Homo sapiens: one gene and its partners. The protein of the gene in region 3 interacts with the protein of the main gene of each other region in a biochemical or structural test. Each region holds a gene or a part of one and is shown on either strand. Other genes may lie near its edges. The genes, in order: STAT1, UBAP2L, PRMT1 and FGF2.

Evidence for each region.
Region 1: of the proteins of PRMT1 (region 3) and STAT1, one has a biochemical effect on the other in vitro, tested with the Homo sapiens proteins (one study listed by BioGRID).
Region 2: of the proteins of PRMT1 (region 3) and UBAP2L, one has a biochemical effect on the other in vitro, tested with the Homo sapiens proteins (2 studies listed by BioGRID, with this or other methods).
Region 4: of the proteins of PRMT1 (region 3) and FGF2, one has a biochemical effect on the other in vitro, tested with the Homo sapiens proteins (one study listed by BioGRID).

Annotation. Positions count from the first base shown.
Region 1 is NC_000002.12:190,997,015-191,004,566, forward strand, and holds part of STAT1 (signal transducer and activator of transcription 1-alpha/beta), read right to left. Parts: intron 4,150-7,552; coding exon 4,060-4,149; intron 2,691-4,059; coding exon 2,612-2,690; intron 1,295-2,611; coding exon 1,203-1,294; intron 994-1,202; coding exon 842-993; intron 1-841. UniProt on the Homo sapiens protein: Signal transducer and transcription activator that mediates cellular responses to interferons (IFNs), cytokine KITLG/SCF and other cytokines and other growth factors.
Region 2 is NC_000001.11:154,216,628-154,224,202, reverse strand, and holds the start of UBAP2L (ubiquitin-associated protein 2-like), read right to left. Parts: upstream 3,249-7,575; 5' UTR 3,228-3,248; exon of another isoform or gene 3,163-3,227; intron 2,900-3,162; exon of another isoform or gene 2,807-2,899; intron 1-2,806. Other genes in the region: LTAP1 (protein C1orf43), read left to right, coding at 3,796-3,861, 4,266-4,367. UniProt on the Homo sapiens protein: Recruits the ubiquitination machinery to RNA polymerase II for polyubiquitination, removal and degradation, when the transcription-coupled nucleotide excision repair (TC-NER) machinery fails to resolve DNA damage.
Region 3 is NC_000019.10:49,672,372-49,680,270, forward strand, and holds the start of PRMT1 (protein arginine N-methyltransferase 1), read left to right. Parts: upstream 1-4,899; 5' UTR 4,900-4,909; coding exon 4,910-4,945; intron 4,946-7,498; exon of another isoform or gene 7,499-7,500; coding exon 7,501-7,554; exon of another isoform or gene 7,555-7,558; intron 7,559-7,768; exon of another isoform or gene 7,769-7,864; coding exon of another isoform or gene 7,865-7,882; intron 7,883-7,899. Other genes in the region: BCL2L12 (bcl-2-like protein 12), read left to right, coding at 1,327-1,377. UniProt on the Homo sapiens protein: Arginine methyltransferase that methylates (mono and asymmetric dimethylation) the guanidino nitrogens of arginyl residues present in proteins such as ESR1, histone H2, H3 and H4, FMR1, ILF3, HNRNPA1, HNRNPD, NFATC2IP, SUPT5H, TAF15, EWS, HABP4, SERBP1, RBM15, FOXO1, CHTOP, MAP3K5/ASK1, MICU1 and NPRL2.
Region 4 is NC_000004.12:122,885,751-122,893,302, forward strand, and holds part of FGF2 (fibroblast growth factor 2 isoform 18 kDa), read left to right. Parts: intron 1-6,460; coding exon 6,461-6,646; 3' UTR 6,647-7,077; coding exon of another isoform or gene 7,078-7,475; 3' UTR 7,476-7,552. Other genes in the region: NUDT6 (nucleoside diphosphate-linked moiety X motif 6), read right to left, coding at 7,078-7,475. UniProt on the Homo sapiens protein: Acts as a ligand for FGFR1, FGFR2, FGFR3 and FGFR4. Also acts as an integrin ligand which is required for FGF2 signaling. Binds to integrin ITGAV:ITGB3.

The DNA of each region.
Region 1 (7,552 bases), on a different chromosome or scaffold from region 3:
CCCCCATTCCCAGCATGGTGCTGAGAACCTGCACCATCAGGCTCCAGCATCTCCCACCGGGTCCACTTTCCTTCCCATCTCCCTGGACACCCCACTCTCCAGCCACCCAATACAGCCCCTGCAGTCTCCCACATGTGTGCCTTTGCACACGCTGTGCTCTGTGCTGGAAAGCACTTCCCCTTGATCTACGTGGAGTAATCCTAGTGACTTTTGAGTCAGCACAAGGCCACTTCCTCTATGAAACCTTCCCTGGAGATGCTTTCCTTTGTCCTCCACAGAATTCTGATGGCCTTTTGCTAGAGCACCTGGATACTTTTACCACACGAATTATTACCATGTCTACATCCCCCCCTCCACACTGAGAACTCCTTGTTGGCAAGGGCCAAGAATCACTCATCCTTGTGTGCCCAGGTCCTACAGTGCCCGGCACACAGTAGGCATTTAATAAGTATTACTGGATGGATGACTGAATGTTTCCTAAAAAACTATTCTGTAAGCCTAGAAAAATGCCTCAAGCTATCTTGTTTTTAAGGAAACATTAAGAGTCAAGTCATTAAATGTGTTCTATAACGACCATGTCACTGATGTTTTGTACAGTCAAACGACACCCCATGGTACAGGAGTGCTCCAAACCAAGCAGACGTGGCTGAACGTGGCGAGAGTCATGAATAACACTGTGCTTTCCAAGGGAGTGTTTCCAGGGTAAGCAGAAGCTGGACTATGTCAAACTCTATACTAATGTTTTGACAGGGTCCATTCAACTAACACAGCTCAAAGGTACATTTATGTGTTTATGTGGTTAGCCAGTCAGCTGCCAGTTTTCTGCTTTGGAGAATCTTACCAGTTCTGCAGCTGATCCAAGCAAGCATTGGGCGGCCCCCCAATACAGGCGCTCTGCTGTCTCCGCTTCCACTCCACTAGTTCATCATTAATCAGGGCATTCTGGGTAAGTTCAGTGACATTCAGCAACTCTATTATTTTGTGAACTACTTCCTAAAGGCAATAGAAGAAACAAAGTGAAATAAATTCATTTTTAATCACTGAATTTTAAAATATTTTTTAAAAGAAAAGCAAATATCATTTCATTCTCAACTGGGGCTCTAAGCCAGGTGGCTATAATTTTTCCTCTCTTCTAAACTTTGAGTCCATTATTTACAGTGTATAACAAAAGTGGCATGCTATTCTGGAAAGTAAATAACTACCTTTCTCTTATTGTCAAGCATTAAATACATCTTCTTGAGTAACAGCTGTTCTTGTTTCTGATCACTCTTTGCCACACCATTGGTCTCGTGTTCTATAAATTGAGAGACAGCCAGTAAATATATAAAGAAGACAAAACCAACAAAAGCCAAGATTCATATAAATTTAGGATAAATATGACACAAATGCTGCCTAGTGACAGGTCAAAGTTTGGCTTTCTTCGATCTTTAATGAACATGAAAAAAAGTCCTAAGTATAACAACTAGACACACTGAAACAAAATACTTGTTTTCAAAAATTAGCCGGGCGCAGTGGCAGACGCCTGTAGTCCCAGCTACTCGGGAGGCTGAGGCAGGAGAACAGCATGAACCCGGGAGGCGGAGCTTGGAGTGAGCCGAGATCTCGCCACTGCACTCTAGCCTGGGCGACAGAGCGAGACTCCGTCTCCAAAAAAAAACAAAAAAAACAAAAAAAAAACAAAAAAAACTTGTTTTCAGTGACCCATGTAAATCAGACATAGTAGTATCTGCCACTTAAGACACTGTCAGGTAATTACCTAAATAAATGTAAATAACATTAATAATAATGTTATTATTATTATAAAAATAAATGTAAATAATAAAATGTTTTATCTGAACAGAATTCAGATAAAAAATGTATACAAAGCATAGCTGTAGCTTTCAAAGAGAAGTAGATGAGTAGGAAGTGGTAGTTGAAGTTGCTGTCTCTTATACTTTCTACCCAAATCATACTGATAATCTCTGCCTATGAACCATGGTATACCCCAGATGATGAATAGAGTAACAGCAGTACCCTACGTGTCCTACACAATGTACATTCTTGAGATCTTTTCTGTTGCTACTCTCATTAAAAACACGCAACAGTAAGAAAATACAGTAAAACTGCTTTAAAACATGAGAAAAATACTGAGCTTATCTGCTGTGTATACACGTGGCCCTGCAACGTTTGAAGAAACCTGAGATATTAGGGCAGGGGAACTCCACATATCTATCGCTCTGTGTCAGTCAGTGGGCTAGGCGCAATAAATATGGTGAGTAACACATAACCAGTGGTTATCAAGTAGGGGTCACTGACCCCTAGGGGACTTTTGGCAATCTCTGGAGACAGTTTTGGTTGTCACTAGTGAGGGCTCCTGGGTAGTGCTACTGGCATCTGGTGGGTAAAAGTCGGGGATGCTGTTAAACACGCTACAATGCCAGGACAGCCCCAACAACAAATTAGCCCGAAATGTCAATAATATTGGATGTTGAGAAGCCCTGGCCTGGGTTATCAAGGAAGAATTCAGAGTCATAAAATACTCGGCAAATAGAAAGGAGTAATCATCTTCGTTATCTAGTGTGAACAGAAAAAATTGCAGCCAACGGGCACCACTTCAGTTGTGAACCCTTACCTCTGTTCTGCAAGGTTTTGCATTTGAAGTCATATTCATCTTGTAAATCTTCCAGGCTCTTGATTTCATGCTCTATACACTACAAACAAAGATGTAAACATGTTTTCTACTGATCAGCAACTTCCAAAGACTTTAGGCAACAGAGTATTGCTTCTATGGAACCCAGAGAAACACGAAAACAATTCCATCTCCCCCAAAAAGAGATCTGACTTGGACAGTTCTAATCATATACATGAAATAATTTCGGTTTCATTAATAAGTATGTCATAACATTTTTAAAAAAGCAAACGTACAATAATTCTCAAACTGATTTGTATGTCCTTAACCTGGTTCCAGCGCCTAAATTTTGATTCTTCCTCATCATTTTTGAGACTACCTCTGAGATATGATTTAAGAACTCCACTGTGAAGCCCACAGCAGGCGGGGAAAAAGCTCACAGAAAATTTCCTCATTCCTTCCAAGTAAGAAAAGTGACCATACATCCCTGCTTTACCGGGATAGACCTGGTTTCATACTTGCTGTAATTATAAACAGTGCCCTCTTGGCGGCTCAAATGCATCTCCATCTGGACAATAAATTGTATGTTCATTCTACAAATAAGCCTCATTTGTTTGGGATTTGGTCACATTTCCACATATTCTTCTCTGGATTTCCATGGCTATTTCTGGACTGGGCTCACTCGGTTTCTACTTTAATGAAATGTTTCCCTAGGAGACCGCAAGATGAAGTTGCTCCAAAGAATGTGGAGTTTGGAAAGATGCTGTCTGAAGCATGTAAGTCAAGGCCATACTGCTATTACCCAGAGATCCACAGAGGACCAAACCCCTAAGCTGGAAGGCCTTTTCCACAAACACAGGCCTCTGTGAAAAAGAACTCCTCAAACCCTCCCCACACCAGCCCTAACAGTGGAGAGGAGTAAATGCGCACCATCGAGGACGCCAGAGCAGCCCTCTGCTTCCATAAATTGACTTGGAAGTTGTATCCTAAAATTGCTGTGGATGTCTTAATCAGAAATGTATCCAAATTTCTTTCAATAAAATGTATTTTTGTTCCTCTTCCAAGTCTTAGGATAAAACAGATGACTGGGAAGGATGGGCCATGTTTATCCTGGGGCACTGTGATTTGAGAGGTGTGGACATAAAGGCCCATTTAGAGCAGCAACATCTCATTTACTGGGTACTGGGCAAAGTCAACATTTACTGCATGATCTTTCAGGGAAGAAAAAGCTAAACTCAATGTTTGGCAGTTATAAGAGGCCATTCAAAAAGTCTATCTGGTCATTGATTTTGCCAATTTGTTTACTTATAGCTTGAGACTTCTGCAAAATTTTTCTTCCCAACTACTTAAAAGACTGAACTCAGTTACGAGGTTTACACCCCAAGCAATTGAAACCTTTTTTCCCCTACAGAAAGTTTCAGAATAAATGCATGTGTTTACTCAATACTCACCATAACCTTGTCCTTCACATTTCTGACTTTACTGTCAAGCTCTTTCTGTTTGTCTAACATCACTGTGCTCTGAATATTCCCCGACTGAGCCTGTAATGGGAAGGGCATGATTATAGCCATCGTTTTCTTCAGGGTGTGTACTTGCTGGTTACACTCCAAAGTCAAGTCCCCACTTGCCTTCCAGATCTTCTGACATGTACTACAGGCTTCCTGCTTATGTGTCAATATGAAATTTTTCCCAAGGCCCTGGAAAATGCTGGCAAACTGTTAACAAGGTTACAAAAAAACTAGGCTCAATTCATGTCTAAAATAAACAGTATTTCTGGGAGTTTCCATTAATTCATACAGTTGCATGGTACCACGCTGGAATTTAGTTCACGGTTTCTCAGATACTATACACAAGATTACTCTCATTAACTCAGTCCTTATTTATCTTAAAGCTTTCTGATTCAAAGTGTGGTCCTCAGACCAGCAGCATCTCACCACCTAGGATCTTGTTGGAAAATCTCAAGGGCTAATATGATTAGGCAATCAGAAAACCCTATTTTAACACAATTCCGGGTGATCCAGAGGTATACTGAAATATGAAATCACTCCATTAAGGCCATCAATGAAAATCTGCTACTATAAAGTCAATAATGAATATAAACCCAGACTTGCCTGGGAGTATTCAGTCCTATTTTTGATAATCAGAACACTCAGAAGTGACAGGGTCTCTACTTGCTTCATACACCAGATGTACCCTGCACATACTAGGTACTAAGTAAATGTCAGGCAATGCTCTAGGCTCGGGTGTTAGAGTGGTAACCAGTGATCCCTGTTCTCATAGAGATTAAATTCTAGAAAGATGTTATTTTTTTAGAGTTAAATCCCCCACACAGCAAAAACTGTGCTTGTCAACCTTTCTTACACAGTGCCCTATACAGCACAGATTCTACGGGGGTGTTTTTATATGTGCAATTGTATCATCTTTTCTTCATGTCTGGAATTTTCCTTATATTAGAAAGCCTTTCCCTATTGACATTACATCATTCACTCATTTCCCTAGCACTTGCAAGGTTTCCTTTTTTTCTTTTTAACTTTTAGATCGCTGATATATTTGTTTATTCTCATGATCAGAGTGAAGTATGGGTCCACTTTTTGCTTTCACTTTTTTTCCAGTTAGCTTTCCATTTGTCTTAACAGCATTTACTGAAAAGTCCATTATTTTCCCCAGTGCTCTGAGCTGCCAACTTTATCACATGAATTTCCATATGCACACGGGTTTCCTTCTAGATTTTTCTCTTCTTTCCCATTGGCCTTTTTATTCATAAGCCTGAACCCTTGAAGGATGTTTGACTATAGAGGATTTATAGTCTGTCTAGTAGGGCCAGTCCCATTTCATTGCTCTACTTGTTCAGAAGTTGCCTCGCTACTCTTGCATGTTTATTTTTCATAAATTTCAGAACAAATTTGTGTAGCTCCAGAAAACAACTTGTTGGTATTTTTATTGGAATAACATTAAAATTACAAGTTAACTCAGGGAGAGCTAACATCTTTATGATGTTGTTTTTAATTCTTATGCTTCTAATGGTTTTCTCTTGTCTAATTGCATTGGCCAATACCACCAATACGATGCTAAATAGCAGTGGAAACACAGCATCCTTGCTGTGTTTCTGACTTACTGGAGTTTTCCCAGTTAGGTAAGATACTGTCTCTAGAATGGAGATATATATATTTTTTTGTGTTAAAGAGGTACCCATCAATTCCTATCTTATTCAATGTTTTTATGAGGAATGAGTATTGAATTCTGTTAGATCTTTTCAGCTTCTGTGGAAGGAAGTAAATGCTTTTTTCTCCTTGTAGCTATTAATTTAGTGAATTGCATTAATAGGTTGCCCAGTCATGGACTACCCTTGTAACCTATAATAAATCATATTTGGTCATGTCCTTTCTTAATGTAGTATTTAATTCTGATCCCTAATATCTTATTGAGGACTTTTATATTGATACTCATAAGTAAAATTGGTCCATAATTTTTTGTTTTATCTTTATCAGGCATACGTCATCAAAGTTATTCTCTCTTCATAGGAAGTTTTCCTTCATGTTACATATTCTCCAACAGCAGAAGTTCAAAGCATGTGAATTGTATCAGCTGTAAAGTGTGTATTAGAAATACATGAATGTTACTGGTATCCTCTGTAAGTCCAAGGTGCCACATATCACTCAGTGACAAAAGGGGTTTCTCTGGGCGGTTGGAATAAGTTGTCACTTTGAGGAGTTCCATACAGCTTTCTGCCTGTGCAGGGAAATCTTTGCTGTTGTCTAATTCTGACATGGTTTGGATCTGTGTCCCCACCCAAATCTCATGAATTGTAATCCCCATTGTTGGAGGTGGGGCCTGGTGGAAGGTGACTGGATCACGGGGACAGTTTCTCATGAATAGTTTAGCACCATCCTCTTGGTACTATCCTTGTGATCACGAGTTCTCACAAGATCTGGTTAAGTGTGGAGCACCTCTCCCCTGCTTCCTCCTGCTCTGGCCATGTGATATGTGTGCTTCCCCTTCACCTGCTGCTATGACTGTAAGTTTCCTGAGGCCTCCCCAGAAACTGAGCAGATGCCAGCACCATGCTTCCTGTAACAGCCTGCAGAACCATAAGTCAATTAAACCTCTTTTCTTATAAATTACCCAGTCTCAGGTATTTCTTTATAGCCATGCAAGAACAGACTAATACAACTTCTAAGCCAGCAGGATGTGGGCACGGTGTCCTGTGGGCTTTGTAACAGCTGGGACACTACACCTAGAGAGAGGGACCAGGCCACTGGAGAATTCTGACTTCCCAGGCCTCCTCCCAAATGACCAAGGCTCGGTTTAGAGAACAGGGATATAAACAATGGCTGTAAAACAGCAGCTACATCCCCAGCTTCTACATCCCCTTTCTACTGACTTGCTGGGAGATGCTTGGTGGAAAAACCTGGTGACTGTGGCAGGGCCTAAGAAATCTCCTGCTTCCAACTTGGGCAGTAGTCCCTCCAAGTCACTCAAACCCTTGGTGCTCTCTTACCCCTTCCACTCATCCCTCCCTGCTTCCCTCCACCCTGCCCCCATCTGCTAAGCAGATGCTTGGCTGCTCCTGTACACTTTAGTACTGATACCACTTTCACAGTGAGTCCTTAACTTTTTAACTTTCTAAGAAACCAGGAGTACTGAAACCACGGGAATTTCAAACACTGAAGTTGGAAGGGACTTCGGCTGTCATTGACTCTTACTTTCTCGTTTCACTACTGTACCTCTAGAGACCTTGTTTGGATGGGAACTTGGTTACTCCAGACCCCAGAGCAAAGAAAAGTCTTCTGCTCAGGAAGGGGGTCCTTTCCAATGGAGTGAGCAGTTGTCCAAGTAAGGGAATAGGCACTCCATGGGTGTGAGAAGTTCCAGCCAGAAAGCCCTCATATCCCATCCCACAGATTAGAAAACTGAAAAGTGACTTCTCCAGTGAACTAGTTTTAG
Region 2 (7,575 bases), on a different chromosome or scaffold from region 3:
GCTGGCAAGATGACTTAGTTGAGTCTTTAAAGAGACACAGAACACACAGGGCCTTCCCCAAACCAGAATATAGTTTTTGTTACAAGACTTCTAACAAGGAAGGATTCTACTGAATTCAAGTTCCTTTAGTTCATACTTTGTTTTATAATACAATCTCAGCTGCTGCATTTAGTAAAAAAGAAAACATTAATCATATGATAGAGTGTTCAAAATAATAGGTTACTCTGCATTTATTCCCTTCCAAAGAGGGTAAGTTTATACTTTTCTGCTCTATATTTAATTTTTCTTGTTAATGAAACCTTATACAACGTAATTCTAGACTGCCCAGAGATATTACTGGATTTGAGTGGGAGGAAGGACTTCTAAAGAAATATGCAAGGATTAACTATTAGGGAAGTGAATTTCATCTGACTTTCTTGGATGTCACAGAGAAAGCTGACTTTTTCTGTGCATAAATTCTTCACCAAGTTGCGTCAATAGGTTGCATAGGTCTTTGTATCAAGAAAGATTTTTTTAAGGTAGCTTCTCAGGTAATTTTTAACCCATTACCTCTTCCCCCTACACATATTGGCACACAAAAGCCCATAAGTATTTCAAGCTAGAAAGGATTATTTGCTACACAGTAGCCCATTTTCCCAGGTTAGCATTATAGTCGTTTCAACTTTACAAAAAAAAAAAATGTTTAACCAAGTACCCCGAATCCAAATCAACAAGACTACATATACACATATATACGTATATATATAAAGACGAGAGGAAAACTATTTTGTTTTAAAATTGGCTCTAAGATGAAGTTTCTAATATGGCATAGTCATTTCCAACCCACTACTGTAACTTACAAATATTGACTGTTTTCTACTCCACATGTGATATCTATTTGTGAGGATAAGTTATATTGCAGGTATAAACTGCATGACTAGCTATACACTATTGCATATACTGTACCAGTCAGATGTAAACATATTAAAAAGTCATCTTGAAAGATATAATTAACCAAGAAAGAAAAAAATTCTCCTAATCACTCTTGCTAGTAACATTTCCCTCTTACAAGTGCTTCGAAATGTGACTAAGAAAATTTTTACCACCTAGTAGTGACAACACTGAGCAACAGGTCAAAAGTAAGTGATCTGGAATGGATCACTTGAGGGCACAGAATTAGTAGCAAGCAGACCCATTCCCAGCTATCACACTGGAGATGAAGAATCTTGTTACTTACTTGCTCTTTCTTAGAAAATAAAAAGATTTAAAGGAAGTAGGGTGAGAAGTATTGGAGACCAAGGAAATCGTGCGAGAGTAAACAGAGGTTTCAACACAGGAGTGCCCTTGACTCTTTTTTGAAAACTAGCTACTTAAAAAAATAGCCAGAGAAATTTCACTGAAAAAACTAAATAACAAATATTTATTGAGAATCTACTATGTGTCCAATACTTCAGGAAAATACAAAAGCAGTATGACTTAGTAGCTGCCCTCAGGGAGCTTACAATCTAATTTAAGAAACAATTCAGAAACTGAAGCTAGACTGAGTTGGGTAAAATTTGCTACCTCTAACAGAACAACTAATTTCTGTAGATGCTTTGTTGAAATGGCCCCTGCATCCCCTTCCCCACCACCTTGATATCTAGTTAGTAAGAGTACTTCCCAGTTAGGACATAGCAAGGAGGAGCTTTAAAGATGAAAAACAAAACAGGACATTTTTAGGCCTTTCATCACTAGTTTATGTGCCAGCAATATTTCCCATTCACAAAGGAAACAATCATTGAGATAGTCTAATCTTTAAGGACAATGGTGTCAGATCTCAAAGCAGTTTTATCAACTGATACACAGCCAAAATGTTTTAATTCTCTGTAATCATTGGGATAGTCTAATCTTTAAGTACAATGGAGACAGATCTCAAAGCAGTTTTATCAACTGATACACAGCCAAAATGTTTTAATTCTCTAGAAACGCTGGTTACTAGTAATGTCCATCACCTCCCAGCAAGTCACATCAGGTATCCCCAAAACAGGATATGCGGCGGAGGAAGGTAGGATGGGAGAGAAGACAAAAAAAAAGGATTTCTCCATTTAATAATCAGGGAGAGTCAAAGGCAAAAACGTTAACAATAATAACAAAAACGCCTGTTACTGTGGTGTTTTTCTTTCCACAACATCCTACACCAGAGGTGGCTACATTTCAAGAATGGTGGAAAAGGAGCAGTCTCCAGTTTGTGACATCAGTTTGCAAAGCAATTTAAGGGCTGTCCACAAGGTTAAGGGTTTGAAGAAACTGGGCATTCCTGTACCATTATGAGAAGAGTGAACAAATACCCCAGTGCTCTAGTGACGTCCCTTAAGCGTAAATACACCCTATGGGGGCCTCCATGTCCAGCTTCCCAAATAACACAATTGTTTGGGGTACCCAAACTACAGTATAAACAGGAAGCTAAAGACAGCAGCAAAAACATATTCCAAGAACTGGGTTGGTGAGAAAGAAGGGAGGGTAATAAGAGGAGCTGACAAAGAGCCTGGAAACGGAGAGGGGACGCAAGCCCACGGGTGGAGGATGGGAGGCTCACCCCCCTCAGCGCCACATCGAGAGCCCACGGGGCCAATCTCCTCCCTACCTCCCAGCCGGAACAAATTAATCCTTCGCACACCAAACTGAGGGCCACATGGGGGAGTTTGGGGGAGCTCCACCCCATCGCCCTCCCTCCCCCACGCCACCCCCAAACCAGGCCGGATCCGGATCAGAGGAGGCCCGCAGTGGGTGGAAAGGGAGGAGGCCCTCTCCTCCGCAGGCACCGGCCGGGGTGAAGAGAGAGCCCTACCTCAGGCAAGGCCCAGGCCTCGCTCGCTCGCGCTCTTTCTCGCTCTCCCCTCTCAGGCTCTAGCCGCATGGCCCCCCCTTCCTACGGCTGCTCCAAGCCCCGCCCCGGCCACGCTCCCAAATCGAGGCCCCGGCTCTGGCGCGGCCCACTAGGCCGCGAACCCAACCATAAACAAAACCTCCGGGGGCCGACTCGAGGTGGGGGGCGCCAGGGCTCGCATGACTCGGGGGGGGGTGTACAGTGGGGGAACACACGGTGTGGGGGGGCCTACCGAGGGAGGGGATACGGCGGGGGCAGGGGAGAAAAGAGGGAGGGTAAAAGGGGGATCGCGGATTTAAAGGGGCCGCGGACAATACCCGGCCCCGCCGCGCTGCCGCTGCCGCCGCCGCCGCCGCCAACGCCGCTGCGCTCCCAACTTTACCTCAGTCTCCTCCACACTGACACCCCGGGCCGCGCCGCCCCTGTCACGTGATATAAGATTCCCTCTTCCCCACCCCCTCCCTCCTTTTCCCTCTCGCGCTCGCTCTCGCGCCTTCCCCCGCCCACTTGCCTTCCTGCGTCCCTCAGCGCGTGACGCTAAAAGGGGCGCGCACGCAAGCGTGCGCGTGCCGCCTCGCCACGAGACACCTCTTTCCGGCTCCGCGAGTCCACCCCGCCTCCTTCACGGCGGCCCTGCCTCCACCACGTGACGCACGGATGGCCGCCGCTTCCTCTTACTGTCGTAGTTCCGCGTCTGAGCGCTCGACGCTCCTGGGTGCCATTGCCTGCCTGAGTCACGTGTCAGGGGGAAGCTGGAAGGCGTCGTTCTCCTTTCCCAGCTCTCCTGCCTGTCCGCCATGTTTTCAGGCCGGGTCTGGCTTGGTCTTCCCCCGTAAGGAAATGGCCGGGGAGCTCCAGGGGACCCAGGCGCCGTCGCTTCGGCGGAGCCTGGGCTGACCAGCCAGGACAGCGGGGTAAACCCGAACAATTCTGCGCGAGGTAGGGAGGCCATGGCGTCCGGCAGTAACTGGCTCTCCGGGGTGAATGTCGTGCTGGTGATGGCCTACGGGAGCCTGGTGAGGAGATTACCCCACCCCATTCCTGCTGTCGCATCTTACCCAGTAGAGACCCTCCTTTTGAGCTGTACCCCGTCTGCATTCTCCACCCACTCACCTGCGCCTATCCGGGCTTTGACTCCTTATTCCAGGAGTAGGTGGGAGTTTAAGTCACTTAGTCGGGCCGACCCGCCCTCGTTAGTCTAGAACCCTCCCTTTAACGCTAGAGCACAGACCCCACGCCTCCCTGCTGCTGGCTTCTTAGATCCACCCCCATCATAACGGCCTTGCTTTGCCCCAAGTTTTACCCTGAAACATTCCTGAGAGCCGGAATCTGGGGATTTGGAATGAAGGCATGCTTTTTTAAAAAAAAAACAAAACAAAACTGACTTTTTATTAAAGGATTTTTACATCTTTTTGGACAGGTGTTTGTACTGCTATTTATTTTTGTGAAGAGGCAAATCATGCGCTTTGCAATGAAATCTCGAAGGGGACCTCATGTCCCTGTGGGACACAATGCCCCCAAGGTAGGTCCTTAGGGCACAAGTTAAACATACTTCTCCAGATCTTTTAGGGTCAAGAATGAGATTTCCTCTGCCTTTAGTGATGACTTTAATTCTCATGTTTCTTTGCGTGCACTTGTCCTTGTACTTACTAAGTTGAGCAGGCACTGTGCGCTTTGGAACTTGGCTTACCTGCTCAGTGCTGTGGCAAGCATGTGGCTCATCCTGGAACTTCTGTTTTTGTATCTGCAGAATGAAGGGCTTGGGTCGAAGTTCCCAACTGTTTGTAGTAAAATATTTCCCAGCTCATCTTAAACTACCCAGTGTTTTTTGTTTGATTAGGATGGGGTTGAGATCATTAAGGTTAACCCAAGAGCAATGAGAAGGGTTACCTTTACATAATTTTAGACTTAAGAGGAGCTCCATAAATCATCTAATTCCACCATTCATGTTACCAAGAAGCCCAAGAAAAGGAGGCAGTTTACCAGAAGACGTATAGGAAGTGAATAACCCAGTGGTCTTTTATCTTTGTCTGTACTTTCTCCTTAGGTGACTGTCTTCCTTTCCTTGGCTTTAGCTACAGATGAAATTTTATCTCTATCCTAGAACTCTTTCCTGAGTTCCTTACATATATTGCCAACTGATTACCTGACATTTCCACTTAGATTTGTAGTAGACATCTCAAACCCAACATTTGTGAATCAGAATTATTGCTATCCCACTGCCACTCTCATTCTGCTTCTTTAGTCTTTCGCTTCTAAGTAAAAGACACCTGCTTCCCTTACCAACCCCCTTTTGTGTGGCTCTCCCCAGATCACTGGGACCCAGCTCCACTGGCTGAATTTTCCACCCTTTTTGCTCCTGTGATCTGGAATGGTCTTCAATTGGCTAGCTCATTCATTCTTTTGATCTTAGCTTAAATGTTACTTCCAAAAAAGGAATGCTTATTACCTATTTTAAAGTAGGTTCCCCCTCTCTTTATTTTCACATGGTACCCTGATTTTTCCTTCATAGCATTTACCATAATTTTTATGTTTGTCCATTTGTTTAAAACATGCCTCTCTCTTCCGCTAGACCGTAAGCTTCAAGAATGCAGGCACCATGCCAGTTTTGTTCACGACTATAAAGCCAGGACCTACACATAGTAGGTACTCAGTAATTTCTTGTTGAATGAAAAACAGGTTAGTGCCAGGGCCTACACATAGCAGGTACTCTGTAATTTGTTGCTGAATGAAAAACAGGTTAGTTGTAGAGCTAGAGCTCATGACTCCCTCAACTCCTAGAGCACTGTACTTTCATTAACAAGTGCTATTAACCTTCCCCTCTTTGTTCTTTGCTGACATAGTACATGAAAAGGCTCTAGGAGGATGTCCTGGCTTGAAACCTTAACAGTCCTGCCTGCCTCATGAGAAAGACATAGGGTTAGTTTCTAGCACATCATGAACCAATCAATACTTTGGCTATTCAGGGGTCCCTTGGTCTAGTTCAGAGCAATATTCCTTTTGCTTAAAAATTTTTTCTAAATTCTCAACCATTGCTAGTGAAAGTATAAATTAGTAAAACCACTTTGGAAAATAACTGGTCATTGTCTGGTAAGATTGCACATGTACCTAATCCATGGTCCAACAGTTTCTCTCCTACCATAGAGAAATTAAGTTTTGCTCATGTGTACCAAGAAACATGTGCAAGATTATTTATAGGGGCATTGTTCATAATATTTGAAGAAGAAACTTAATTCAAATGTCCACTTTTCAATTATTATATAGGCTGAGTGCAGTGGCTCATACCTGTAGTCCTAGCACTTTGGGAGGCTGAGGCCAGAAGATCATGTGAGCCCAGGAGTTACAGACTGCAGTGAGCTATGATTGCACTGATGCACTCCAGCATGGGCAAGAGCAAGACCTTGTTTCTAAAAAATAGGTAGTGGTATATTCATATTCTGGAATAGTGTAAAAAATGAAAAACTGAAGATAAATATATGAAGACAAGTCCTCAAAATACTTCTGAATGAAAAAAATTGCAAACATGAATCTCAAAAACATGCTGAGTGGGCCGGGCATGGTAGCTCATGCCGGTAATCCCAGCACTTAGGGAGGCCGAGTTGGGCAGATAACACTTGAGGTCAGGAGTTCGAGACCAGACCAGCCAACATGGTGAAACCCAATCTCTACTAAAAATACAAGAAAAAAATCCTAACTACTCGGGACGCTGAGGTAGGAGAATCCCTTGAACCCAGGTGGCAGAGGTTGTAGTAAGCTGAGATCAAACCACTGCACTCCAGCCTGGGTGACAGAGCGAGACTCTGTCTCACCAAAAACAAAAAAACCATGCTGAGTGAAGAAAGCCAAAATGCCGTTCACAAGAGAATATGTACCATGTGCTTCCACCCCATTTATATGAAATTCTAGAACAGGCAGAACTGTAAAAGAGTACATCATGTTGCCTGGGCTGGGAGAGGGGAGATTTCCAGGTGATGAAAATATTCTTTACTTTGATTGACGTGGTGGTGAAGGGGGTATGTTCATTTGTCAAACTCATCAATTTATATACATAAAATGAATGCATTTATTGTATGTAAATTCAACCTCAATAAAGTATATTTGAAAAATTTTGCTGGGTGCGGTGGCTAACGCCTGTAATCCCAGCACTTTGGGAGGCTGAGGCAGGTGGATCACCTGAGGTCAGGAGTTCAAGACCAGCCTGGCCAACACGGTGAAACCCCGACTGTACTAAAAATGCAAAAAAATTAGCTGGGCGTGGCGGTGTGTGCCTGTAATCCCAGCTACTCAGGAGGCTGAGGCAGGAGAATCACTTGAGCCCCGGCGGAGGTTGCAGTGAGCAGAGATCACACCATTGCACTCCAGCCTGGGTGACAGAGTGAGTCTCTGTATCAAAAAAAAAAAAAATTTAAGGCCAGGCGAGGTGGTTTACACCTGTAATCCTAGCACTTTGGGAGGCCGAGGCAGGCTGATCACGTCAGCTCAGGAGTTCGAGACCAGCGTAGGCAATATGGGGAAACCCTGTCTCTATAAAAAGTTTAAAAATGGGCCAGGCGCGGTGGTTCACGCCTGTAATCCCAGCACTTTGGGAGGCCCACATGAGAAGATCACAAGGTCAGGAGTTTGAGACCAGCCTGGCGAGCATGGTGAGACCCCATCTCTACGAAAAATACAAAAAATTAGCTGGGCATGGTGGCATGCGCCTGTAGTCCCAGCTACTTGGGAGGCTGAGG
Region 3 (7,899 bases):
CAGATGAGAGGAGGAGAGGCGCCGGGCCAGCCAGGACCCTGTGGTCACGGTGAGTGACAACTCGGACTTTGACTCTGGGTAAGCCAAGGTCTCTGAGCAGCGGAGGGACAGGCGCTGATTTAGGCGCTAATGGGCGCCCTCTGGCGGCTGCCTGGGGACAGACTGCTGGGGGCGAGGGCAGAAGTAGGGGCACAGGGAGGAGGTGAGTGGATCTCACCCAAGTCGGGGGCGGTGGAGAATGCTGGATTTAACTTAGCGGTGAAGCTGACAGATTTGGCTAATGGGCCAGATGTGGGGACAGACTAAAGGATGCTGGCCCGAGCAGCTGCAGGGCGACATCTTAAGTTCCCCGAGATGGGGAAGGTGTGGGGATGGGGGCGATGGGGGTGGGGAGCAGGACTGGAGGTGGTCCGGTCTACAGTAAGATCAGAACTCATAGCACATGTTGAGGGGAATGGATATAAGTGTTGGGCTCAGCAAAGAAGCTCGTTTATTTTATTTTATTTTAATTTTTCAGATGGAGTCTCACTCTATTGCCCAGACTGGAGTGCAGTGGCACGACCTTGGCTCACTGCAACCTCCACCTCCTGGGTTCAAGCGATTCCCTGCCTCAGCCTCCTGAGTAGCTGGGGTTACAGGCGCACACCACCATGTCCGGCTAATTTTGTAGTTTTAGCAGAGACGGGGTTTTGCCCTGTTGGCCAGGCTGGTCTCGAACTCTTGGCCTCAAGTGATCCACCCACCTCGGCCTCCCAAAGTGCTGGAATTACAGGCTGAGCTACCACGCCTGGACAATTTCTTAAAAAATTTTTTTAAAGTAGGATTGATAGCAGATGAGTTTTCTCGGTGGGCCAGGTCCTCTGCTAGGGATTTCAATGGAATGATCCCATTTAAACCCACTACAACCTCATGGGGCTCTTATTGTCCTCGTCTTGTGGGGGCAGAGAGGAAAAGTCCCCAGCATGCAGAGTGTTGGAATCTGGATTTGTACACAAAGCCACGACTCTGAATTGTTCAAATCCCAAGACTCTCTTCCCCATCTCTGACTCTGTCCCCCAACTCTTCACTCTCTCTGGATCTCTGTCTAATCCCACTCCAGTGTCCTGACCCTCCTCGAGCTCAACCTTTCCTCCTCCTGCTAGGACCCTGCCCCCTCATCCCTGTGCCCTTCTGTCTGGGTCTCTGTCCCCTTGTCTGGGTGTCTGTCACCCTCCGCTCTCTGGTTCCTCGCCTTCCCGTCTCTAATCTCACAGGGCTGATGTGGACGCTGCTGTATGGGGGGAACACCTGCCCTGCTCACAGGGCTCTGCCACTTTTCCCTTCCAGGAGGGCATCCTGGCTGTTTCACCCGTGGACTTGAACTTGCCATTGGACTGAGCTCTTTCTCAGAAGCTGCTACAAGATGACACCTCATGTCCCTGCCCTCTTCGTGTGCTTTTCCAAGTCTTCCTATTCCACTCAGGGCTGTGGGGTGGTGGTTGCCCTACCTGTTTTTGCCAAAAATAAATTGTTTAAAACTTTTCTTATTAAAAACGTTACAAAGTATTCAATTGTCTGTTCTTACACTTGGGAACTAAAGTTTTAAGGAGAGGAGATTTGGTTCAGAGATTTCTGTGGCTTACGCAAATTGAGGAAAGAACCAGTTCATTCATTCTAGAAATATTTATTTGCAGCACCTACAAGAGCCTGTCTCCTGGACATGTAACATATTTGAGAGAATACCTGTAAATATTCCAGCAACTTGCATTTTTTTTTCCTATTGCACGATCTGGTTATTCTAGCTAATGCTGTATGATGGTCATGGAGTCTTTCCAGTGAATTCCACAGAAAGGTACAGTCTAACTTCACCTGTGTCTAGGACACCACCCTCTTCTTGTTTTTCTCCTCCCATTGCTCCTTTCAAGTCTCTCTTGCTGGTTTCTCATCTACCTACAGACCAGTGGTTTGTCTCACACACACCCCCCACTCTCCCTTTTTTTTTGGAGATAGGGTCTTGCTCTGTTGCCTATACTTGCACTGTTATATAGATACAGTGGCACTATCATGGCTCACTGCAGCCTCAACCTCCTGGGCTCAAGTGATCCTCCCACTTCAGCCTCTCTAGTAGCTGGAACTAAAGGCATGCGACACGACGCCTAGCTAATTTTTAAAAAAGAATTTTTATGGGAGGCCAAGGCAGGTGGATCACTTGAGGTCAGGAGTTCAAGACCAGCCAGGCCAACATGGTGAAACCCCATCTCTACTAAAAATACAAAAATTAGCCGGGCATGGTGGTGGGTGCCTGTAATCCCAGCTACTTGGGTGGCTGAGGCACGAGACTCGCTTGAACCCGGGAGGCAAGAGGTTGCAGTGAGTTGAGATCACGCCACTGCACTCCAGCCTGGGCAACAGAGCGAGACTCCGTCTCAAAAAAAAAAAAATTGTAGAAATGGGGTCTCCCTTATGTTGCCCAGGCTGGTCTCCACCTCCTGGGCTCAAGTGATCCTCCTACCTTGGCATCCCAAAGTCCTGGGATCACAGGCATGAGTCACTGTGCCTGGGCGGTTTGTCTCCTTTATAGGGCCATATCCCCCTTCACAGAGTAATGTTTGTAAATTAATAAGTGAAATGTACAGGATTACAAACCGAACCAATTACAGTTGATCCTCAGTATTTGTAGATTATTTGCAAATTTGCATCCTTGCTACAATGTATTCATACCCCAAAAATTAAGGCAGTGCTTTTGTGGTGTTTTGGAGGGCAATGCTTATGCACAGAGCTGCAACAAGCTAAAGACCTGATGTGCATATTTGCAGCTGGGCTCCTCTTGCTTCAGCTCAAACACTGGAAACAAATGTCCTTTTCTTGGTTTGTTTAGTGCCATGCTTTTCAATTTTTTTTTTTTTTTTTAAAGTTAGAGTCTCGGTCTGTCGCTCGAGCTGGAGTGCAATGGCTTCATCCTGGCTCACTGCAACCTCCACCTCCTGAGCTCAAGCGATTCTCCTGCCTCAGCCTCCCAAGTAGCTGGGATTACAGGCGTGTGCCACCAGTCCTGGCTAATTTTTTTATTTTTATTTTTATTTATTTTATTATTTTTTGAGATGGAGTCTCGCTGTGTCGCCTAGGCTGGAGTGCAGTGGCACCATCTCAGCTCACTGCAACCTCTGCCTCCCGGGTTCACGTGATTCTCCTGCCTCAGCCTCTGGAGCAGCTGGGACTACAGGCGCCCACCACCACACCCGGCTAATTTTTGTTTTTTTAGTAGAGACGGGGGTTTCACCATATTGGCTAGGCTGGTCTCGAACTCCTGAGCTTGTGATCCGCCCACCTCAGCCTTCCAAAATGCTGGGATTACAGGCGTGAGTCACCGCGCCCGGCCAAATTTTTTTTTTTTTTTTTTTTGAGACAAGAGTCTCGCTCTGTCACCCAGGCTGGAGTGCAGTGGCGCGATCTCAGCTCACTGCAAGCTCCGCCTCCCGGGTTCACGCCATCCTCCTGCCTAAGCCTCCACGCCCGGCTAATTTTTTGTATTTTTAGTAGAGACGGGGGTTTCACCATGTTAGCCAGGATGGTCTCGACCTCCTGACCTTGTGATCCGCCCGCCTCGGTCTCCCAAAATGCTGGGATTACAGGCGTGAGCCACCGCGCCCGGCCGCCTGGCGTAATTTTTGTATTTTTAATAGAAATGGGGGTTTCACCATGTTGCCCAGACTGGTCTCGAACTCCTGATGTCAAGTGATCCGCCTGCCTCCGCCTCCTAAAGTGCTGGAATTACACCCGTGAGCCATCGCGCCCGAACCCTATTGTAAATTTTAAGTCTCAGGCGTTTGCCAGCGGCACGCCAGAGAGTATAGCCTGCGCGGAGGCCCAGAAACCAAAGAGCGAGCTCATTCCGGGATTGGAGAGAAGTGTGAGCAGAGGGAAGTAGAGGGATCGGGGAGAGGAGGGGCAGGACCCACGCATTCGGCCCTTTGCATTCAGCTTCATTCAACTAGGAACTTTTTCTGCAAATCAAGGAAAGCTTCCCGGAGGAAGTGGTGCCTAAGCTGTGCTCTGATTCACGTTTAGAAGCTGACCAGACAAAGAGAGGTGGGCGTTCCTGGCAGGGGGAGGGACTTGGCAAAAACCAAGTGGCTTGAGAGGGGTTGATGGTTTTAAAAAACTTGGAATGATTATGTCAAGGGCTAGGGATTTAATGTGTTGACGACGGACTCCTATTCCTCACTTGCTTCGGGACCCCAGCTATGCCCTTCCTCTCTCTGGGCCTCTCACCGATTCCGTTTTTCCCCCAGGTAATGAGCACAAGCTCCCTTTTTCCTCCAGACTCCCCCCGGGTTGGGAGGATCCACCGAGTGGACGAGGAGTGATAATTCCTTTGAGCCAATCGTTGGTGCCTGAAGCCCCGCCTTCTTCCCTACCCGTGGGCCAATTGCCGTGTTCTCCTTGAGGCCGGCCGCTTGGCGAGGGTGGGCCAAAGGCTGCGTGACGTCGCTTCCGGATAAACCAATGGCAGCGATTAGGAGGCGGGTCGTTTTGGTGATGGACAGGTGTTTCAAGACGCCCCTTTAGCGCGGGGCTCCCCGGGAAGCTTTGAGGCGGTGCTGGGTGTAAAGGGGAGGGCATTCCTGGTGGATTTTGCCCAATCACCAGTCGCGCTTCTTGCAATAGACGGGCAGTTTTCCCCATCCCGGGTCGACTTGAGGGGGCGGGATTCTGGACGCCAGAGTTGGCAAACCCCTGACCTATGATGGACGTATTCTCTAGCCAATTACTAGACGGTATTCTCAGACGGGCCGCCTCCATTGCCAATGAAATCTTCCAGCGGGGTCGCGGTAGGCGGGCCGTGGACCCTCTGGTATAAGGCGGTCCCGGGGGAGTGAGGAGAAAGGGGGGGTCTTGGCGGCCGGAGGAGGAGTAGGTGCGGGTGAAGATGGCGGCAGCCGAGGCCGCGAACTGCATCATGGAGGTGAGCGCTTGGAGCGCCGCCGTGGGCGGGAGGCGGCTTTGGGTCGGTGTTTCACGCCTCTGTGGTGGGGAAAGGGCTCTAAGTTGGCGATATGGGGTTGGAGGTCCCCCGCCGCACACGGGGGCGCCGCACGTTCCACATCCGGGGATATCGTTTGAGGTGACGGCTCCCTAGCTTCCAAGGGCCTTCGGCATCCGGCCTAGCGGAGGGTCTTATCCCCCCTCCCACGTGGAGGAGGGCTGGGGGCGCTTCCGGCCAGGCCCCCACGTGGCCGCTGCGCGGTGGGTGGGGAGGGGGTGTGCCGAGTCCAGTGGCCCGGCGGGCTCCACGTGCGGGACAAAGGCCCCGCCCCCGGCCGGGGAGGGGCGCCCAGGGGGGCGGGGAGGGGGTCCGACCCTCCTGACGCCCCCAGCCCTCCTCCCCGGGGACCTGGGCACACGCCGTGGGGTGTGATCGACCTGGGGCCCTCCACGATGTGGGGAGTCTCTTGGGAGGAGCAGTGCTTCTCAGCCCTTTACCAACCTCCTTCCGAGCTCCGGGGGCATCTGTTGGGATATCGGACCCGGTTTTGTGCGTTCTGGGTTAGGGACTGGAGGAAAACCAAGAATGGGGTCCCCCGCCGACCCCGTTTCCCCTCCCAGAATTCTCCCCCTCGCCCAGGGCTTTAGGAGTTGGGGGATGGGGCATGCCCCTGTGACCTCCCTCTGGGTGGTGGTGGGGCATCTAGATAGAGATTTTCCCATTAATAGGCGCCGTGCACCCCCTTGTGGCCATTTCTGGGTGTGTGGGAGGGACATCTTTTTCATGGGGCGTGTCCTGAAGCCCACCTCCCCTCGGATTTCTTCCTGGCGGGCGGAGGGAGGAGGGTATGTCCGCTGGGAAGGAGTTGTGGGAAATATGTAGGCTGAGAGCTTTACCCTACTGGAGCCGTTTATCTCCCCCGGGTCTTTGTGAGGGTGCGAGATGACCTCCTTCTTCCTGAAGCCCTGTGCAGGGTCCTGAGCCCTGGGGTCCTGAGAGTGGGTGCCTGAAATGGTTTCGAGTGAGGTTTGGTTCTCGTGCAGCCATGTGGGGGAGGTTTCAGTCTTGCGTTTCAAGCCCTCTGGGGCTGGGGTTGTCTGGCGGTAGTTTTCAGTGGTATTGAGAAATAGGCCCGAGTGGGAAACCCCCTCAGCACCTTTCTTCTTATAGGCATCCCCGCTAGCTTGGGAGAGCTGGAGGGAGGGTGCTTGGAGCCTAGTAGGTCATGGCCTGTGACGTGGCCCTTCTTGGAGACTTGGATAGTGGTCACATCTGGAAGAGATGTAATCTGATGGGGCCTCTGTCCTTCCACCCCTTACCTATGGCATTGGCTGGAGGGGCAGGTCAGCTCTCAGCTGTCAGGATGCAGCTCCCAGGGGTCACTGTAATGACTTCCCACCCTCTTGGCTGTCTCCTGCACCTGGGGCTCTATGGATGGAGGAAATAACTTTCCCAGAGGTGGCCTCAGGCTTGGCCGCACCTGGAAGTCTTCAGGGCCTGGGATGGGTGTCTGAATGGGGGCGATGGCCTGACTCCCCAAGCCACTTTTTTTTTTTTTTTTTTTGAGACGGAGTCTTACTCTGTCACCCAGGCTGGAGTGCAATGGCTTGATCTCGGCTCATTGCAACCTCCGCCTCCCGGGTTCAAGCGATTCTCCTGCTTCAGCCTCCTGAGTAGCTGGGATTACAGGCACCCGCCACCAGGCCCAGCTAATTTTTGTATTTTTAGTAGAGATAGGGTTTCACCATGTTGGTCAGGCTGGTCTCAAACTCCTGACCTCAGGTGACCCACCTGCCTCGGCCTCCCAAAGTGCCGGGATTGCAGGTGTGAGCCACCGTGCCCCCAAGCCACTTTCTGGAGTCCTCTCATTCTTAGAGGGTCCAGGAGCTGCCCATCTTCCCTGGGACCCTACCTTCGTGGGCAGAGGGTCATAAGGGAGGGGGTTGGTTCCAGCTGGTTTTGTTTGGGGCTCCTGAGTCCAAGGCAGGAGCTGGGGTCTGGGGTACTAGCTCTGGGGAAGTACCCGTGTGCCACACCTCTATTCTGGAATCCTCTCAGACATGAGACTGGTTTGCAGAGGTGGCAGATGCCCTGTGGGCATATCCTGCCAGCCCCGCTCCCTTCTGCTATTCATGGCACCCTAGGATAGGGGTGTGTGTGTCAGGAAGTGTCACCTAATCTGGAGGAGATTAGGTGATGAGAGGGAGCGACAGCTGGCGGTGGTGGGTGCCAATTCCCCTGGCCTGGATGGGGGAGGTGTGTGGTCAGCTGCCTGGCCAGAGAGGGGCAGCGTGGGGGTGGGCCACCATCTCTCCAGCCACAGCTGGGATAGGAGACCCCCCTTTCTTCTCCCCTCACTTTTCCCACCCTTTCTTAAACACCCCACCTCATTACTTGCCCCCTTCGCCACCACTCCCCACCAAGAAGGAGAATTGCTGGAAACCCACCCCCCGGCCAGAGCCCAGGTTCCGCCACCCAGCCCTCCCACAGCCACTCCCAGTAGCTAATCCTTTTTCCCTGTTACTCTCTCCTAGAATTTTGTAGCCACCTTGGCTAATGGGATGAGCCTCCAGCCGCCTCTTGAAGAAGTAAATATCCTTTTGTGAGACCCCTCCCCACCCTGACCTCCACATCAATATATCTTGCCACACATCTGGCCCTTTCTTGAGGTCTAACCATACCCCTCTTGCTTCAAACCAGTTTACCCCAGGCCCCCAGACACTTAGTAGCAACCCCTCCAGGTTCACAGCCCCCGCTGGCCTCCCCCAGTATCGCCGCTACTTCCTTAACTCCACCTCCAACCCCCCTTTGCCCTTCCCTGTGTCTGCCCCCATTTTCCTTCCCCTCCCCTCCCCAGCTGTGGGCTGAGCTAGAGACGGGGTCAGAGAGACTGGAGAGATGGTAGGCGTGGCTGAGGTATCGGGGTGCTCCCC
Region 4 (7,552 bases), on a different chromosome or scaffold from region 3:
TTTCTGTTCCAGGATACCATATTTAGTCATCATGTCTCCTTAGTTTCCTCCAGACTGTGACAGTTTCTTAGACTTTCCTTATTTTTGATTACTTTGATAGTTTGAGGAGTACTGTTGAGGTATTTTTTAGAATGTCCTTCAACTTGCTTGATTTTTTTTTTCCTTTTTTTTTTTTTTTTTTTTTTTGAGACAGGTTCTTGCTCTGTCTCCCAGGCTGGAGGGCAGTGGTGTGATCATAGATCACCACAATCTTGAATTCTTGGGCTCAAGCGATCCTCCTACCTTGGCCTCCCAAGTAGGTGGGACTACAGATGCATGCCACCATACTCTACTAATTTGTTTTTATTTTTAGTAGAGATGAGGTCTCACTATATTGCCCAAATTGGTCTCGAACTCCTGGGCTCAAGAATCCTCCTGCCTTGGCCTCCCAAAGTGCTGGGATGACAAGTGTGAGCCATTGCACCTGACCTGATGTTTTTTTCATGGCCAGATAGGGATTTGAGTGTTTGAGAGGAAGACTATAGAAGTAAAGTACCATTTTTGTGGCATATAATGGTATATGTTATCTTCATGACTGATAACTCATGATATAATCCTTGCTTACCTGGCTGAGGTAGTATTTGTGTCCACTGTAAAGTTACTCTTTCACTTCCTTTCCATACTATACTGTTTGGAAGGAAGTCACCATGCATAGTCCACACTTAAGAGATGGAGATGATGGTTATGCTCCACCTCCTTGAGGGGTAGTATCTACATAAATCGTCATTCTTTTGCCTGGGAAATGTGTTCATTTTCCTCCATTTATTTATTTATTCAATCATTTATATCAATATGTATTCACAGATATTTATTTTATACTTTGAGTTACAATCCAATACTACATTATTTATTTTGTTGCTCAAATAGTTCCAGCTTTGGCCATTGGGAGCTCTTTCAGTTGGCTCCTGTGCCCTCCTCTTTGACATACTCTCAACAATGCATTTATTTTAAGTACTTCATTACTTTTTGGCCTACAAGATGCTCCAGGCTCATTTTGTATATTCCCTACTCCACCCTAGAATGAGCCATTTCTCCAAAGAGCATTGGTTTCTTTTATTAGAGAATGGTATTAGAAACCACAAACTGGAATGCTGGGTGTGCTTGTTGCTACTGAAGTATCTTTGCTTCTAAGCCCTCTAAGCTTAAGCTGACAGAGCAAGAAATGGTGGTACATACTAGCCTGGGTATATACATGTATTTATAAATATTTCTATATTTGGCCATCTGTATCAATATTAATATGAGGCAGAGCATGGTGGCTCACATCTGTAATCCCAGCACTTTGGGAGGCTGAGGCGGGTGGACCACGACGTCAGGAGTTCGAGACCAGCCTGACCAACATGGTGAAACCCTGTCTTTACTAAAAATACAAAAATTAGCCAGGTGTGGTGGTGCGCACCTGTAATCCCAGCTACTCAGGAGGCTGAGGCAGGAGAATCACTTCAACCTGGGAGGCAGAGGTTGCAGTGAGCCTAGATCGTGCCACTGCACTCCAGCCTGGGTGACAGAGGGAGACTCTGTCTCAAAACAAAACAAAACAAAACAAAAACATCTAAATATGAGTTCATTCATACTGATATCTCCAACCTTAATCCATCAATAACAAATGAATATTTTAGCAGTCCCCCCCACTTGCTTGTGTGTAACCTGCCACCCCCAACAGTGAGAAACATGGCTCCCGCCATCTCCTGGGATCAGTTTTTCATTATGTAGAAATATCTCACATAACCTTATTTTCTTTTTGAAATTCCAAAGTAAATTAACTATCCAGACAAAAAACAAACTTTTAAAAGTGTTGATTATGCTTTTTCATGCTACATTAGAGTCTGCTCTATTCAAATACTCCCTACAAGGGGTCAAACTGCCAGCACTATCTTTAACATTATTAGCATCATTATCAATATCAATAAATGGTTATTGGGCCCCTCTTATAGAACCATAAACTAAGCTGGTTTATGTGGACAGCCTCCAGGGGAACCTTGAGGTGTTGCCCCATCACTAACACATGACAAATTTATATCACTATCATATGTATACATCTACATTTCTTTTTTAGGTTTATACCTTTTAGACCTGAGAATACTTGTTTACTGGCATTATTGTATATAACACACTTCCTGGTATTCCAAATAAATTAGTACTTTTTAATTTCTAGTTCTGTGGTTATTAGCATTAGCAAAAAAGAAGGAAAAAAGTTAAATGATGTGTCTGTTGCATAGTAGGTGCTCAGTAAATACTGTCTCCATTTGGATGTCTGATATTCCTCTCAAACTCAACACATACAAAACTGAATTATTAACCTTTTCCTATAAAATCTGTTCCTACTCATAGCCCTCCCCACCGCATTTGATGGCAAGTTTATCATTCTAGAACAGAAACTTCAGTGCCATTCTTAATTCCCCTGTTTTTCTCATACCATGCAACCAATCCATCAGGAAACCCTATTAAGTCTACCTTCAAAATATGTACAAAAGCAGACACCTCCTTACCATTTCTACTGCTACCTCCATGATCTGAACCTTCATTCTCTCTGCCTGTATTACTGAATAACCCTTTAACTGGTCTAAGTCTGCTTTTGGCCCTCTGTAGTCTTGGCAGCGAGAATAATCCTACAAAAAGATGTCAGATCATGTTATTTTTCTGCTGAAAAGACTCCAGTGGCTCTCCATTTTCTTAGAATAAGAGCCAAATATTTACAATAGCCTACAAAACTATGAGGTCTGCCCCCTCTCCCATCCCATTACCTCTCTGATCTCATTTCCTGCTACTCTTCCCACATTGGCCTACTTGCTACCCCTCAAATACTCTGGATATGATCCTGTTGTAAGGCTTTTGCACTGGCTTTTCCTCTGATGGGAATGCTCTTCTCTGATAGCTGGATGGTTAACGCCTTCATCTCCTTCAAGCATTTGCTCAAATGTCACTTTCTCAATGGAGCCTACTGTGACCATGCTATTTAATATTGCACCTAGCTTCTACCACTCACCATTCCTAGTCCCTCTTACCCTGTTCAGGTTTACATTTTTCTAAGTTTTCTTATATTCTAACATAGAATATAATTTATTCACTTAAGCTTATTGCTTATTGTGTGTCTCCCCCAGCTAGAATTTGAGTGGCATAAAGGCAGGGATCTTGTTCAGTTTTGTTCATTGATGTGTCTTAGATGCCTAGAAGAAAAAAATATATAGATTGAATGAGTAAGTGTATTATTTAAACTCTATGCTTCCTGTACCTCTAAATTATTCTTCAATTTTAAAAAAGCAACACATAAACAAAAACTTAATTTGATATAAAGGTATCAAGTAGATGTAAGGGCAAAAGGTATCCAAAATCTGAAATGTTACCAAAAGCACTGAGTTTTAAATTCCTCATTTGTTAATGAGTATAATAATGTTAAAATATTGTTGTGACTTTTAAAGTATATGCATAAAAGCAGTCAATAATCATGCATTAAGGGATTTCTCAGCTCTTAGGCCTATATAAAATAAGGCTTTGGAAACAAGGTACAAGTTGTTATAAGCCCTTAGAAGCCACTTTCTTTGTGGTGGCATTCCTCTGAAGACCCCTTTTTATCCGAAGTTTGAAATGGTGAGCAAACACTGATAATAGGAAAACAGTTCTTTAAATATGTTTATAAAGATTAATAAAATTATAATGCACCAGTTTTTAATAGGCACACTGAGATCACAGTCACTGAAGATGACTTGGAAACTCAGAATGGAGACAATTGAAAATTGTACATATGTTGCTCTGTTAGACATCTACTTTTCTTGACCACTAAATTTTGGCCCTACTACTCATTTTTTTAAAAAAATGCAGTTTGTTTTCAAGAGCAAAACAGTTGTTTAGTAAATTTGCATTGCTGAACATTCAGCACAGATGTAAGTTTCCTTCCCTCCACTGTTTTTTTTCAAAAGTAGAAATAACTTTTGTAATAAATAAATAAGTAAATTAATTAATTAATAAGCTGTGGGTTCTATCATGTATCCACTTAGTCCCTGGTACTGTTTCTTTTCTCTGAAATATTAGGAACTGGCTGAAAAGGCAAATGTTATTGGAATAGTTAGTATTCTAGTATGCCAAGCATTGTAGGGAGTGCCAGCTAGCAAGGTGGGGCATCCGGGAAGCTGATAGAACACCAACAAATGAACATATGACTAAATGCTGTTGTTTAAATTTACCTCTGGGGAATCAGTCTATGAAGTTCCATGGTGACCTTTCATGTTGTCTTTATGGTTACTATGAATTTTCCTTTCACTCTTTGTTTCCCTTCTGCTTCTATTCTTGATCATAAACCTGGAATAGAGAAAAGGGAAGATTTTTTTTTCTTTTATCAGTGGCAATGAAGATGACAGAATAAAGTAACAGGTTAACTTCAGTTCACACGAGAGGGGTACTAAATTTCACTAGAGGTAGAGTAAAAGTATTGGATTTGGAATATATTGGTCTATATTACTCTAAGTTTAGGTGTTTCACTCTTATCACATTTGAATCTTTATGAACAGCACAAGACAGTCCTGTGTTTCATATAGCTGGGTCCTGTCAATGTGTGCTTCTCTGTAAGGCTGTGATTTATTTGCATCATGAAGAATTGAGTTTCTTTATGAGTAACGTATTACATAATAGGCAAATTAGTTAAGTTTGTATTTCAGTTTTTAAAAATCCATTTAACAGTGGTCAAAATATTAAAACCAAGTAAATATCCAGTAAAATTCTTATCTCTAGAAGATTACAGGATCTAATACCACACCCTTACTTTAGATGGCTGAGACACATTAGTCACTTTTAGTTCTTTCCCAGGCTTTACTTTACATTTTTGTTATTATGCCAGCTCTTTTCCTTGTTTTGCCAATTAATTTATGTTTTTGTCACAGTTTGTGCCATTGTTTGCCTTATCTTAGAACCAAGGAATCTGGGAAAAGGTTCAAGTCTTTTTAATGTGGGCTTTTCCAAACCTGAAGTTTCCTAGATATGAGTATATAGAAATAAACTGGAATGTGGTATTAATACAAAACCATATATTTATGTCTCTGTATACATCTTATATTTATGTGTTTAGATAAAATTTACATGTGTTTTCTATATAAGTTTATCATTCGATTGATATATATACACATAATTATAATGTAAAAATGATTTTTCCTTTTGAAGTGAATAAATTAATTTTTCCCCTTTGAGGTCAGTAAGTATCTTCAGTGCTACCCTGTGAAGTTGCTTTTTGAACAATTTATCTTTTTTTTTTTTTTGTTTTGTTTTGTTTTGTTTTTTTGAGACGGAGTCTCGCTGTGTCTCCCAGGTTGGAGTGCAGTGGCGCGATCTCGGCTCACTGCAAGCTCCGCCTCCCAGGTTCATGCCATTCTCCTGCCTCAGCCTCCCAAGTAGCTGGGACTACAGGCGCCCGCCAACACGCCCGGCTAATTTTTTGTATTTTTAGTAGAAACGGGGTTTCACCGTGTTAGCCAAGATGGTCTCGATCTCCTGACCTCGTGATCCGCCCGTCTCGGCCTCCCAAAGTGCTAGGATTACAGGCGTGAGCCACCGCGCCCGGCCGAACATTTATCTTAAATAATGTGGTAGCTATTAAATTCCATTACTTGGAGTATTATTTCCAGGTCTTTTTGAAAGCCAGCTATCCTTTTTTTTTTTTTTTTGATAAATAGTTGAATTGAAATTAAAAGGCAAAGTCCCTCCCTCCTGAAAGAGACTGCCAGAAATCAGTATGATACTTACTTATTCCTCATTGTCTAACAGTGTTTGGAGATTGTTAATCATATGTAATATAATGTTCCAATATTATTTTTGGCATTATATACCAATAGCTATTTTCTGTACAATAAACTATTCATTATTATGCCTTAAAAAACATTAGCCACTTAAAACTTTTTGTTAAAATTTGGGGAATTAACTCTTCTTGTGAGTAAAGTATTAACAAACCTCCTTCTGTATGGAAAGATTACAATGGGTTAGCCTTCTACTGCTGCTTCTGATAAAAGTAAAAATGATCCCTGATTGGTAACCTACCTTGGGACTGGGAAGAGTGTGGATGGATCATAAATACTGCTGGGAGCTATAGCTTTGGGCTTCCCATAGCATATTTCTTCTTACTGGGTATGTCCCTCCTTGTGTTTAACACCTGACCTGTCTGTTTTGGAGCTGGAGAATTGTCTCTGAACTCCTACTGAAGAGACATACTTGATGCTGTCCTGCTGACATGCTGTGTTCCTGGCCTGCATCCTTCTTCAGAACTAGTCTGTGTCACATTTTGGCCCATTGAATCTTGTTAGTTTGATTGCCCTGCTGAACCCAACATCACTGCTGCTGGTTGAGCAGAATAGGCATTATACTATCATAAATATTTAATATGAAAAGTGTAATAATAATAATGATAATAATAACAGGTAATTCTTCCTTTATTTTTCAGAAATGTGTTACGGATGAGTGTTTCTTTTTTGAACGATTGGAATCTAATAACTACAATACTTACCGGTCAAGGAAATACACCAGTTGGTATGTGGCACTGAAACGAACTGGGCAGTATAAACTTGGATCCAAAACAGGACCTGGGCAGAAAGCTATACTTTTTCTTCCAATGTCTGCTAAGAGCTGATTTTAATGGCCACATCTAATCTCATTTCACATGAAAGAAGAAGTATATTTTAGAAATTTGTTAATGAGAGTAAAAGAAAATAAATGTGTATAGCTCAGTTTGGATAATTGGTCAAACAATTTTTTATCCAGTAGTAAAATATGTAACCATTGTCCCAGTAAAGAAAAATAACAAAAGTTGTAAAATGTATATTCTCCCTTTTATATTGCATCTGCTGTTACCCAGTGAAGCTTACCTAGAGCAATGATCTTTTTCACGCATTTGCTTTATTCGAAAAGAGGCTTTTAAAATGTGCATGTTTAGAAACAAAATTTCTTCATGGAAATCATATACATTAGAAAATCACAGTCAGATGTTTAATCAATCCAAAATGTCCACTATTTCTTATGTCATTCGTTAGTCTACATGTTTCTAAACATATAAATGTGAATTTAATCAATTCCTTTCATAGTTTTATAATTCTCTGGCAGTTCCTTATGATAGAGTTTATAAAACAGTCCTGTGTAAACTGCTGGAAGTTCTTCCACAGTCAGGTCAATTTTGTCAAACCCTTCTCTGTACCCATACAGCAGCAGCCTAGCAACTCTGCTGGTGATGGGAGTTGTATTTTCAGTCTTCGCCAGGTCATTGAGATCCATCCACTCACATCTTAAGCATTCTTCCTGGCAAAAATTTATGGTGAATGAATATGGCTTTAGGCGGCAGATGATATACATATCTGACTTCCCAAAAGCTCCAGGATTTGTGTGCTGTTGCCGAATACTCAGGACGGACCTGAATTCTGATTTTATACCAGTCTCTTCAAAAACTTCTCGAACCGCTGTGTCTCCTACGTAAAAAAAGAGATGTACAAATCAATAATAATTACACTTTTAGAAACTGTATCATCAAAGATTTTCAGTTAAA